Linked DNA regions of Homo sapiens: region 2 is linked to region 1. A link means that fine-mapping ties the variant in region 1 to the expression of a gene that starts in the linked region. Tissue or cell type: whole blood. Region 1 holds a variant in brackets; the other region holds the start of a gene. All regions are shown on one strand. Distances are between the middles of the regions.

Region 1 (6,739 bases):
GTCCTGCTTGGTTGCATGGCAGCACCTGGGGGTGCCCAGCTGGAGGGATGGGGCAGGATCGGGGCCAACAGGCAGCAAGCCAGGATCCTGCAGCAGCCAGCACCTTCCTCCTGCTGGTGTCAGAGCTGGGCATGGGGGGCAGCATGCCTGTGAGTAGCCTCAGAAGGCTGAGGTCCCTGCCCCCAATATTGGCACCTAGGCCTGCACCCTCACACCCTTCATGACCACAACCAAATTTTCTTGTCAATTATGTCTTTAACCATGATCATTTTGTTTCCACAGTTAATTGCTTTATACGGATGCATTTTCTTTAAGCTCTTTACAACCAAGTAAAATCCTAGAGCATTATGTCTTCAAGAACGTTCATGGAAAGTAATGGAAAGGACCCTAATAAGCACTACTGAATACAAGTTTCTGATAACTTTAGGCTCATCTAATTTGGACTGGGTAAGAATTCCCAGAACTTTAATAAAGAGACTGGTTTATAAAACTGCTAACCCAAGCAGGACAAAAATTAACTGAATACTAAGAAAAATACTCTGCCAGATTTTCATGCTAAATCAGCCAGTACTAAAACTGTTAAGATATGCAACTTGAATGAACTCTATGTTCCAAGTCAAATTACCTATGATAACCCATTTAATGAACAGTGCTATGCACCTGAATTGGAGATACAAAATTGGTATTTAACAGGCTATAAATGCAATGTTAAGCATGGAATCACAGAGATCCTGCACAGCCACCTGGTCCTTCCTGAATCCGTAAATCTTCCATTATTAAAAGCTCTGCACTCCATGACTCATCATGGAAGACAGAAAATGATCCAAATAGAAAACATATACATTGGTGTGGTGACTGCTCTAAATCGCTAAAAATGGTTTATGACCAAGGTTTGGCTTATCAAACCTACAACCTGGGAAGATAATTAAAACTTCAGCTACCTGATGGGTCATTGGAACACTTATAGAGGAATTTCATTCAACTGTCATTTTCAACACGTTTTCTGGTAAAAGCTTTCTCATGCAAGAAGGCTGATGCTATAACAGTAGCTAAAAGGTTGTCAGAAAATGTGTTTCCCTCACGGGGCATTCCTGGAGAAATCTCCAGTGATAGTGGTACTTGTTTCACTGGACAAGTTGTAAACAGTTAAGTAAGGTATTACAGACACAACAGCTTTAGGTGAAGCTAACTGAATTGACTGGTTGCCTTGGTCAAAGGTATTGCAGATTGATGACAACCTCATCTGCTTCCAGTAGAAAATATAAGTTGACTCATTATGAAATAGTCACTGGAAGGCCTATGCCACTAATAATAGAACCTCATGTATCTTCCTCTCCCAAACTCTGATATGAATAAATGCTGCAAGCCTTTAATGCATTATACCAAAGTGTATTTTCACCAGCTAAAGGAAGCTTTTCTTTTTTTTATTTTCTGTAGATGGTCTCACTCTGTTGCCCAGGCTGGAGAGCAGTGGTGTGATCTCAGCTCTCTGCAACCTCCACCTCCCGGGTTCAAGCAATTCTTGTGCCTCAGCCTCCCAAGCAGCTGGGATTACAGGCATGCGCCACCACACCCAGCTAATTTTTGTATTTTTAGTAGAGATGGGGTTTCACCATGTTGGTCAGGCTGGTCTTGAACTCCTGGGTTCCAGAGACCTGACCTCCAGTGATTCGCCCACCTCGGCCTCCCAAAGTGTAGAGATTACAGGCATGAGCTACCGTGCTGGCAGTAAAGGAAGCTTTTCATGACCCACCCACTGAGGACATTCAAATCCTTCACAATCTAGAACCTGGAGGTTGGTTCTTCTGGAAATGACGTCAGGAAAACACTGCCCTTGTTACCCACAATGAAGCAAAACTCTGGGGCCTCAAACACTGGGTCAATTGATATCACAATGCAGGAGGGCCCCTCCAGACTTGGAATTGTACACCCATTGGAAATCTTAACGTAAAGCTAACCAGTTAGAAAAGGTTTTCCCCCAGAAGCAGATGGCACCCTAGACATGGACAGCTTTCCCAAAAGCATGGATCAAAACTTCTCTGTCATCATGAGACTCTTACCTCTCAATGTTTTCCTTGTTTATGCCTCTATGAACAACAGAAAAGGGGTCTTATGGTGCACCAATGGGGCACACTTTTATTTGTGAAAACTTTTACAGCCAACCTTATCCATAGGCAGCATTATGTCTTAATGGATGAAAGATGACAGTCCAATGTGGGTTAGGAATTTTAATGGTTCTGTCAGAAAGAGAACACTGGTCCACTCCTTTTAACCTACATCAGAGGTGAAAAAGAACACTAGTGCTTGGAAGCCTTCATCATTCTGAATGGCCTTCATTGTTAGGTCACTTTTTCCAGAGTTTGGAGTAAACGATACAGTGTCTAGAAATTTGTCCCTCATGGGCTGGACGCAGTGGCTCATGCCTGTAATCCAAGCACTTTGGGAGGCTGAGGTGGGCAGATCACTTGAGGTCAGGAGTTCAAGACCAGCCTGGTCAAAATGGGAACTCTGTCTCTAGCAGAAACACAAAAATTAGCGGGGCGTGGTGGCGTGTGCCTGTAGTCCCAGCTATTTGCGAGGCTGAGGTGGGAGAACTGCTTGAACCCAGGAGGCAGAGGTTGCAGGGAGCCGAGATCACGCCACTATTCTCCAGCCTGCGCAACAGAGTGAGACCCTGTCTCAAAAAAAAAAAAAAGAAAGAAAAAGAAAAAAAAAAGAAATTTGTTCCTCATGATATGCTCCATAGCAGATTCTACTGCAAAGGCTATGGTTACAAAACAGACTTCTTTAAATTATCTTGCTAAAGGTCTACTGGATAACAGAATTGCTCAAGGTTGCCTACTGGCTAATCAGGGAAGTATCTGTGAAGTTGCTGACACTTTTATTTTTATTCTTTGAGACAGGTTTTTGCTCTGTCACCCAGGCCGGACTGCAGTGGCTCAATCATGACTCATTTAGCCTCAACCTTCTGGGCTCAAGTGATCCTCCCACCCAGCCTCCTGAGTAGTGGAACTACCAGCATGTGCCACGAGGCCCGGCTAATTTTTGTATTTTCTGTAGAGACAGGGTCTTGCTATGTTGCCTACGCTGTCTTGAACTCCTGGCCTCAGGGATCCTCCCGCTTCGGCCTTCCAAAATGCTGGGATTAACAGGTGTGAGCCATCATACCAGGCCTTGCTGA[C/T]ACCTCTTGTTGCACGTGGATGAATATACTGGATATTACAGAGATTCAGTTGTAGGGGATTAATGAACTGGCTGCTTGGTTGAAATGAGTAGATTGTTTATCTTGCTCATTCTTTGATCTATTTGATTTTAGTTGGTTTGGTTCATGCGAACTCTGGCTAAGGAGCATACTCCAAACTCTTAGTATTATCCTCCTAACAGTCATAATAGCAGTCTCCCTGCTGCATTATATTCTCTCAAAAGTTATAAATGTTTGCATGCAGCCATCTATGTAAGTTCAAATGGTCTCTCTTCAGCAGGAATGATAAACACTCAAAGACATGCATGATCATGAGGACACCAAAACCTATGAATAAAGTGCTAGGACTGGAAACCCAAAAGGATGGTAACTGAGTAGCACTAAAGCCCTAAGTTTCAGTAACACTCACACCCAAGTGAGAACCTGACCAAAAAGGCGAAGCTGTTAAACAAAATTGTGAGAGCCCACTGTTTTGGATTAAGCTTATTCACTAGGCATCAATAGGCTAGACCAGATCAAACCTAAATGAAGTCACTCATGCTAAATGCAACATCATCAAATTGAAACTTTAAGGAAGCAGAAAGATCCCAAACAGCCCAGGTTTTTTATTCCTTTCCTAAAAACAAGAGATCCCAGCATAAGGAGGTTGCCCCTGCTCTAATCCCTACAGAAAACTAACCTGAAGTCCTTGTTCCCCACCTTGCAAAAGCCAGTTTTGTTACCTCCCAGTTGGATTTGAGATCAAATAAGTACATTTATGGATGCCTAAAGTTTTGTCAACCTCTCAAAATTGACAAACAATACAAAATTGAGGCCAGATGGGGTGGCTCATGCCTGTAATCCCAACACTTTGGGAGGCTGAGATGAGCAAATCACTGGATGTCAGGAGTTCAAGACCAACATGGTGAAATCTGTCTCTACTAAAAATATAAAAATTAGACAGGTGCAGTAGCACACGCCTATAATCCCAGGTACTTGGGAGGCTGAGACATGAGAATCACTTGAACCCAGGGGGCAGAAGTTGCAGTGAACCGAGATTTTATGACTACACCCCAGTCTAGGCAACAGAGCCACTCCATCTCAAAAACAACAACAATAACAAAACAAAACTGAGAGGTTGACCAAAGAGGGGAATTGTTAAAGTTAGCCTAAAGCTGCCTTCTTACATATTTTAAGTTCGGGCCTAAAGATTTCTCAGTACATAGGGAACTGTAACCTGACTAGAAGAGAAAACAAACTGCAACCTACTCCTGTAACAAGTAACTCAGTCTCCGCCAATCACAGCAGCCATACTTCACTCATAGACCGCCAACTGCTTAAACTGTGTTCAGATAAGCCAAAGGCCCAGCTGTAACCAATCCTGCAGTTTCTGTACCTCACTTCCTTTCCTGTATGTCACTTTCCTTTTTCTGTCCATAAATCCTCTCCAACCATACACCAGCACCAGAGTAGTTCTCAACCTTTCCTGGTTCGAGAGGCTGCCTGATTCGCAAATTATTCTTTGCACAATTAAATTCTGTTAAATTTGTCTGAAGTTTTTCTTTTAACACACCTTATTGGTTCTATGTCTCTGGAGAACACTGCCTAATACAAACCAAACTAAAAAGTTTGGTTTAGGTTTGGTTTTGCTTAAAGCAGTGTTTTCTAACGTTCCGTCTTTGTTACAGGATCCCATCCAGGATTTAGTCACCATGCCTTCTTAGGCTCCTTGTTCTGATGATCTTGACTGTTTTGAGGAAACCTCGTCAGGTATTTTGTAGAACGTCCCTCAATTTGGGTTTGTGTGACGTTTTCCTCATGGGTTATAGGCTTTTTGGAGAAAGACCATATAGGTAAAGTGCCATTCTCAACAATCGCATCAAAGGCATACATGCTACAAACACCACCTCACTCATAACGTCAACTTTGATCACTTGGCCAAGGTTTCTCCACTGTAAAATGATTCCCTTTCCACCTTCCCATAGGCTACTCTTTGGAAGCAATTCACCAAGCTCAGCCCATCATCAAGAAAGAAATGCAGAGGCCCACCTCCTGGACAGGGAAAGTATCTACATAAATTATTTGTGATTCTTCTCTACAGGACATTTGTCTTTTCTATTTATTTATTTAACAGAATTTATTTTTGTCCCCAAGCCAGTTCTTTCTACCACGGCTTCATCGTTCCCACAGGGAGTAACCCCCACATACCCAGTGAAACTTTTGGTTTATCTTTAATTTTTCTCCTGTATGTCTCATATTTTAATCCTTTAAAGAGCTCTCCATTGTCATCTTTTTCCAATGTTGTTTAGATTTAGTCAATCTCTTTTCCTTCTGTCATGACTTTAATCCAGACTACCGTCTTCATTCTCTCGAAGAGTTAACCTCTGAGCAGGTCTCTTTTTTTCCCCTCCATGCCTATTCTGTTGTAATTTGCCTTTTATATCCTTTAGTCATACTATTAGATTATTATTCTTATACTTTCAAAAGTATAATTTTAGTAGCATTACAGAGTCAAGACCATTCCCAACCCTAGAACTCAGAATGGAGAAAGTGCATAATAAATATCTGATGGGAAGTAGAAGATACAACAAATTTTTTTCCACCACAATTTATTCTCCACACCAGGAAAATAATACCCTGCAGGAAACTTTAAATAAACAACAGAAATATTTAAACATTAATTATTTTAAACCTAACACATATTGCTAAGATGTGAATGAAAAGTATATATAGTCACGCAAAGAATATAGATATCAGAGGAGAAAATGTTTAAGATGTTGCAAAACTATAGGAAGCTAAGAAAAAGAAAATTGTCTTTGCCCAGAAAAAGAATCTAAGAAAACCTTTCAGGCCGCTTAATGGGTCTCCTAAAATCTAGCATTTTTGAATTTTCTATAGGAGAAAATCTTGAATAAAATTACATGATTACATGTAATTGTGTGTGTGTGTGTTGTGTGTGGGGGGTGTAGGGAGCGGGGAGAGAGAGACAGAGAGAGAGAGAGAGAGACAGACAGAGAGAGGAGTTAGCTGTTTCTTTTGTTTTGTTGGTAGGAGGAACAGAGTTAAGTTCAATTACCAATGTTGTAACACGTCCCTCAGCTCTGGCCTGGCTCACAATAGTTTCACTGAAATTTGTAATGCCAGCGCTTTAGAATTTGAAATGAGAAATTGACAGGTATCTCTTTATTCTAATGATAGAAGCAAATACAAAACATTGGGGTTTCCTAGGACACAGGACTATTCTTCATTTGGGTCACGTCAGAAGTAAAACTCCAAAAGATAAAAATCACTGCTTCCTGTGCTGAAACCTTACTATATATGGTGCACTTTCTTTTTTTTTTTTTTTTTTTTTTTTTGAGACGGAGTCTCGCTCTGTCGCCCAGGTCGGACTGCGGACTGCAGTGGCGCAATCTCGGCTCACTGCAAGCTCCGCTTCCCGGGTTCACGCCATTCTCCTGCCTCAGCCTCCCGAGTAGCTGGGACTACAGGCGCCCGCCACCGCGCCCGGCTAATTTTTTGTATTTTTAGTAGAGACGGGGTTTCACCTTGTTAGCCAGGATG
Region 2 (5,642 bases), 42 kb after region 1:
AAAAAGAAAATCTAATCTATGAACATCACAAACTTTTTATTAGAGACGGTGTCTCACTATGTTGCCAGGCTGGTACTGAACTCCTAGCTCAAGCAATCCTCCTGCCTCAGCCTCCCAAAGGGCTAGGATTTCAAGTGTGAGCCACTGCGCCCGGCTGAACACCACAAACTTCTAAGGAACCAAGGTCTCCATCTGAAACTTCGAAATACAAGACACTAGTGGAAAAAAAAAAAGTGCTACTGGCCATTTCAACCAAGAATAAGTAAAGTATTTTAAAATGACTGACAACATCAAGCATGCCTTCCTTATCACATACTAAGCAACAGTATCTTCTCTTTCTTTGGTATTATTACTCCACCTACTAGAACAGCCCAGGGAATATTTTTTCTTTTCTGCCTTACACTTTCTAATTTTTTGTTTTTATTTAAATAACTTGAACTACTAATAATTATACACACACAACTAGGACTACTAACACACCATTACTGGCTATTACATCTATTATTTCATAGTGGACCCATGATATACTTGGCCTTTTTAAAAGCATGACTCATCCGAGAGCGTTAAAAAAAAAAAAAAAGAATCCCAAGGCCAGGCACAGTGGCTCACAACTCTAATCCCAGCACTTTGGAAAGCCCAGCTGGGAAGATCACTTGAACCCGGAATGTGGAGGCTTCAGTGAACTCTCAAACCCAGAAGACTGAGGCTGCAGTGAGCTATGACTGCACCACTGCACTCCAGCCTGGATGACAGAGCGAGACCCTGTCTCCATAATAAAAAATTTTTTTTCAGAAAGAAAAGTTCCATAAGGTTCCAAAAAGCAAAAGTTAAGTTTGACATATGCCAAGTACTACAGTGAATCCACATGAATGAACTGATATGTAGGCACTGTACTAGGTATCACAAGTATTTTAGAGAAGACAAGAATTCGGAAGGGTGTGCACAGATGATATGGAAATACGACACCATTTTATACGGTATAAGGTACTTGAGCGTCCTTGGATTTCAATATCTGCAGGAGGCCTGGAACCATCCTCCAGTGATACCAAGGAACAACTGTACTCATATGCTCTGCCTTTTCATAATTCCAATAATGGGTACGGATAGGAAAATGTTCCCTGCATTTGCATGCAAAGGGACAGAAAAGTACATATATCTATTTCACTATCAAATAGTTCTACTTACTGAACAGCAAATACAAAACATATTCTATACATGTTTCTTCAAATGTGCCTAACTAGTTTACTTCTTTAAGTTATGCTCTTTCAAACACATAGATCAGATTTAATTAACTCCCAGACTAAGCAGAATGAAATTTCCTTTCGCTGTCTTTAAAGAAAAAGAAAATAGGGTGGGGGTGGTGGCTCACACCACTAATCTCAGCACTTTGGGAGCCCGAGGCTGGCAGATCACAAGGTCAGGAGATCGAGACCATCCTGGCCAACATGGTGAAACCCTGTCTCTACTAAAAATACAAAAATTAGCTGGGCGTGGTGGCGCTCGCCTGTAGTCCCAGGTACTCAGGTGGCTGAGGCAGAATTGCTTAAAGCCGGGAGGTGGAGGTTGCAGTGAGCCAAGTTCAAGCCACTGCACTCCAGCCTGGCGACAGAGTGAGACTCCATCTCAAAAAAAAGAAAAGAAGTTTAAAAATAACTCCACCTCCTGAAGAATACACATAGGTGTTCACAGTACTCTTCCTTCATTATTTCTGTATGTAAAAACTGGAGGAAAAAACATTAAATTGGAAATTTGGTCCCTCCACCTCCCCCCAACCCCCCAAAACCCCCATTTCCAATTTATATGACGCCTTTCCTCCTCTGGAGCATAAAACTGCCTCCTTTAAGTGGAGGTTTCCAAATGTCCGGAATACACATGAAGGATATATACACTCCTTGAATAGGCCACTTTTTGCCACTTTCCCTAATAATGTGCTGTTTCTACCACAAACTACTACTAATTGTTTGGTCACCAGTATTAGGATCCTAGTTTGATGAAACGACATCTATTATGTGTCCTCAAAGAGCGAAAAGAAAATTCCAAAAAGTTCGACAGAGTTAGGAATATTAGCTGTATCTACCAGAGGACTATCCCTCTAGTCGTTAAGCTGAAGATGAGAAGTCAGGTAAGGCCTCACATTTCTAGGGGCTCTGGAAACTTCCTTTCTTTCTGTCTCCTGCTTATGTATGTCTTTTCCTCTATCTGAATTGCTTTTGTATAGAATACTAGAACACGAGATGAAGGGGGGAAATGCCAAGAGAAGCAAATTTCTACAAGCAAGTGGTCTTGCTATAGCTTGAACGCCTTAAACAAATCTGATATTTAAAAAAAAAACCAAAAACAGTATCAAGTGGTAGCTTCATTCTATTTGTCCACCTTTAGGGCTAATTTTATATACCTACACCTCTGGAAAAAGTTACTACTGTCAGATTTGCTCCCAAACTTTGAGAATTGTCATTATGGTCTGCAGCATTAAACCTAGATTATAAATTATCAATGTCACTTGATTATAAATTATCAATGTCACTCAACTGAATCACACCAAGCAACGACAAATGTAGATTTCATTAAGAGATACTGTTAAAATCACATTCAGACCTCAGAAAGGCAAGATCCCATAACCCAGTCACAAACACAGCTTCAAACGCTTCCCCAACTTTTCAAGCTTTGGGGCGCCAAGTCACTGGGAGTTAACAGCTTAAACATGGGGTTCAATACAACTGACCAAAGGAAGTGAAGAAAACAAAGCATACATTAATTTCAGCACCAAAAATATGGATTTGCGAATTACATCTACTGCTAATAAACAGATCATTCTTTACAGCCTAAGTACGCCAGGCATTTTTTTATGTTTAAATGGCTTGCCACAAATTGTCCTAGTCGAAACTGATGGCAAAATCCTAAACTGATCTTCGGCGAGGAGACACTCTGCATAGAGCATCACACAAAAGACAGGAGCGAACAGACACGCTCTGGGCCTCGGCGGATTGCGGCCAGGAGCCCAGGTTTTCGTCCCAGACCCCGGCAACAGGGAGGGAAATAAGGGCGGGGGAAAGAAGGAGTGGGAGTGGTATCCTTTTCCCTGAAAGCGCCTGGGAGTGAGGAGCAAAGAGGGAAGGAGCGAGTGCAGCACAGAGGAAGCAAGGAAAGCAGCCGACCGGCGTCAGCGGCTTCCAAGGCCGGCAACACCCTCGGGCCCGCACCAGGCCTGGCCCTCCCGGCTTCGTCCCACCTCCTCACCTCCCTCACATCCTGCAGGCACTCGAGCACCGCCAGGTTGTTGCTCCAGGTGTGCTTAGGGCACACGCGGGTCACGTCCTCCCTGCAGGACTCTTCCTCCGCCAGCTTCCAGCCCCCACCAGCCCCCGCTCCTCCCCGCCGGGCCGGAGGCCCACCCGCCGGGAAAGGCGGCTGCGGCGGCTGAGGCTGCTGTTGCTGTTGCTGCTGCTGCTGTTGCTGCTGAAGCTGCGATGACTGAGGCAGCTGGGGCAGCTGCTGACCCGCCGGGCCGCCGCCTCCGGCCTGCCCTACGAAGGACACAAAGTTGGCCCCGGGACCCTGGCCCTGGCTGTGGACGCCCTGGCCGGGGAGTTTCTCGGCCCCGGCCGCGAATAGCAGCAGCAGATGCAGCGCCGCCGACAAGCGGAACATCCTCCGTACACGTCCACACGCCGCCATCTTGAGTCCGCGGCGAGCTCGACGCACTCGCCGGCGCCGCGTATTTAAATGAGGGGGTGGAGACGCTGGGCGTGGCAGCGTGGCCCTGCCGAGCCCCGCCCCGCCGGCGCCGACCCGCGAACCCAGAGTGGGGCGAAGGAGGAGGCCGTGCTGGAAACCGCACACACCCTGGACCGGCGGGCGGGAGAGCGGCGCTCCTTACCCGGGGGGGTTGCTGGGGTTTCTTAAAAAGCCCGGGCAGGGCGGCCTACTCTAATTCCATTTGCTGTCACAAAAAAAAAAATCAAGGGAATTGGGGTTGCCACAACCAAAATGGCCGGTAGAATATGTCGCCGGTTCAATGACTTGGAAAACAAAAACTTTATATGTAGAGGTGAACTTTGCACAACCAGGTGTATTACGGAATCGGAAAGCCTCTCCTTGTATCGCTCCCTCCTTCCTTCCTTCCTTCCATCTGCCTCAGAAGTCTTTCTTAGCCAAAGAGAGAGACAGCATTGAATAGGGTTAAGAGCATAAGTTCTGGGGTAAGAAAAAAAATTAAGGTTATAATCCTTGCTCTGGCAGGGTACGCAAGAGCTCAAATGTAAAGTACCATTGGCAAGATTCGAAATAATAATTTAAGTGCCTGGCCCACAACACTGAACTCAAAAAGTCACAGCCAGTATTGTTAATAAACTGGGAAGCCGTTTATGCATGAATCCTGATTTTAAGCCAGCATTTAGATTCATGTTTAAAGGATGAAAAAATAATAATAAAACACATCTTTGAGGACTCGGGTTAAGTCTGTGTGTCGGTAACTGTTCTCATTGACCTGCATGCAACACCGCAGGCACCCCACACTAGCATCCCCTCCCTGTCCTTAGGAGAGAGGATATGTTCCCAAAGCCTCTTCACATCCGCTGTGTAATCTGAGCCATGCATCAGGCCTGCGTTAGGTTCTCATTTAACTGAAGAATGGCACAGAGATGTTAACAGTTCTGCGTGGAGGGATTAAATGAGCTGCCCAAGAGGAACTCTGCCATCCTGTAGACAGCTAGGCTAGCCACCAGAATCCCTGGGGCTTCCCACCACCCTGGCGCACTTTCATCCCACTCTGTCCATGCACATGTTGGGGAATGAGGGCAGTTTGGGTTGTGTAATCTCCACTGGTCATTGTGTCCAAAAATGCGAATTACATCTACTGTAGTAAACAGACAGCTTCTGCTGTCCTGACCCGCAAATGAGCAGTCAAGACCAAGTTAGACATAACTAGAACCTGAAAAGTCAGGAGCTCAGGGAACCCAAAAGGAGCTCCTGAGACTGAAGATATTCTGTGAGTACAAATTACCCACTGTGGCTGACCCCAGGCCTCTATCATGGGGAATGAGAGCTTGTTGGCATCTCCACCAACGGTCACCTTTGCTACTGTCATAAAATGATCATGAGGCTGCTGCTAACCTTGAGCACTGACTAAGGCAGCCCCATGTTTATTAGCAAACACATGGCATAGGTAAGTTTCAGTCAGGCAGGCTGGACACATCACCAGAAGTCCTTGAGATGTCACTAGCGTATGTTAATTTTTTTTTTTTTTTTTTGAGACGGAATCTCACTCTGTTGCCCAGGCTGGAGTGCAGTGGCGTGATCTCTGCTCGGAGCTGCCACCTCCACCTCCTGGGTTCAAGCAGTTCTCCTGCCTCAGCCTCCGAGTGGCTGGGATTACAGGCATGTGCCACCACACCCAGCTAATTTTTGTATTTTTAGTAGCGACGGGGTTTTGCCATGTTGGCCAGGCTGGTCTCGAACCCCAAACCTCAGGCGATCTGCCCACCTCAGCCTCCCAAAGTGCTAGGATTACAGGCGTGAGGTACTGCGCCTGGCCTCCATTAATTTTCAATGCTGAGTCTGCATGTGTTCAGACAAGTGGGAGATTATTTTAAGCCAGTTTAACTAGAAATTGACAATCCTAGATAAGCCATCAGTTACTTATC

Evidence for each region. PIP is the estimated chance that this variant, and not a neighbour inherited with it, causes the effect.
Region 2: it holds the start of GLG1, and the variant in region 1 is fine-mapped to the expression of GLG1 in whole blood (INTERVAL, PIP 0.93).

Annotation. Positions count from the first base shown.
Region 1 is chr16:74,561,046-74,567,784 of GRCh38, forward strand. All of the region lies in intron 1 of GLG1 (golgi glycoprotein 1), which reads right to left. Among named protein-coding and RNA genes, the nearest start is that of GLG1, 43 kb to the right of the region's middle. RefSeq lists enhancers at 4,552-5,053, 6,696-6,739. The variant C/T (reference allele first, on the strand shown) is at 3,182.
Region 2 is chr16:74,603,420-74,609,061 of GRCh38, forward strand. It overlaps GLG1 (golgi glycoprotein 1), which reads right to left and starts at 3,695. Exons shown (of 26, transcript NM_001145667.2): 1 at 3,238-3,695. The coding sequence starts at 3,675. RefSeq lists silencers at 3,266-3,445, 3,676-3,865.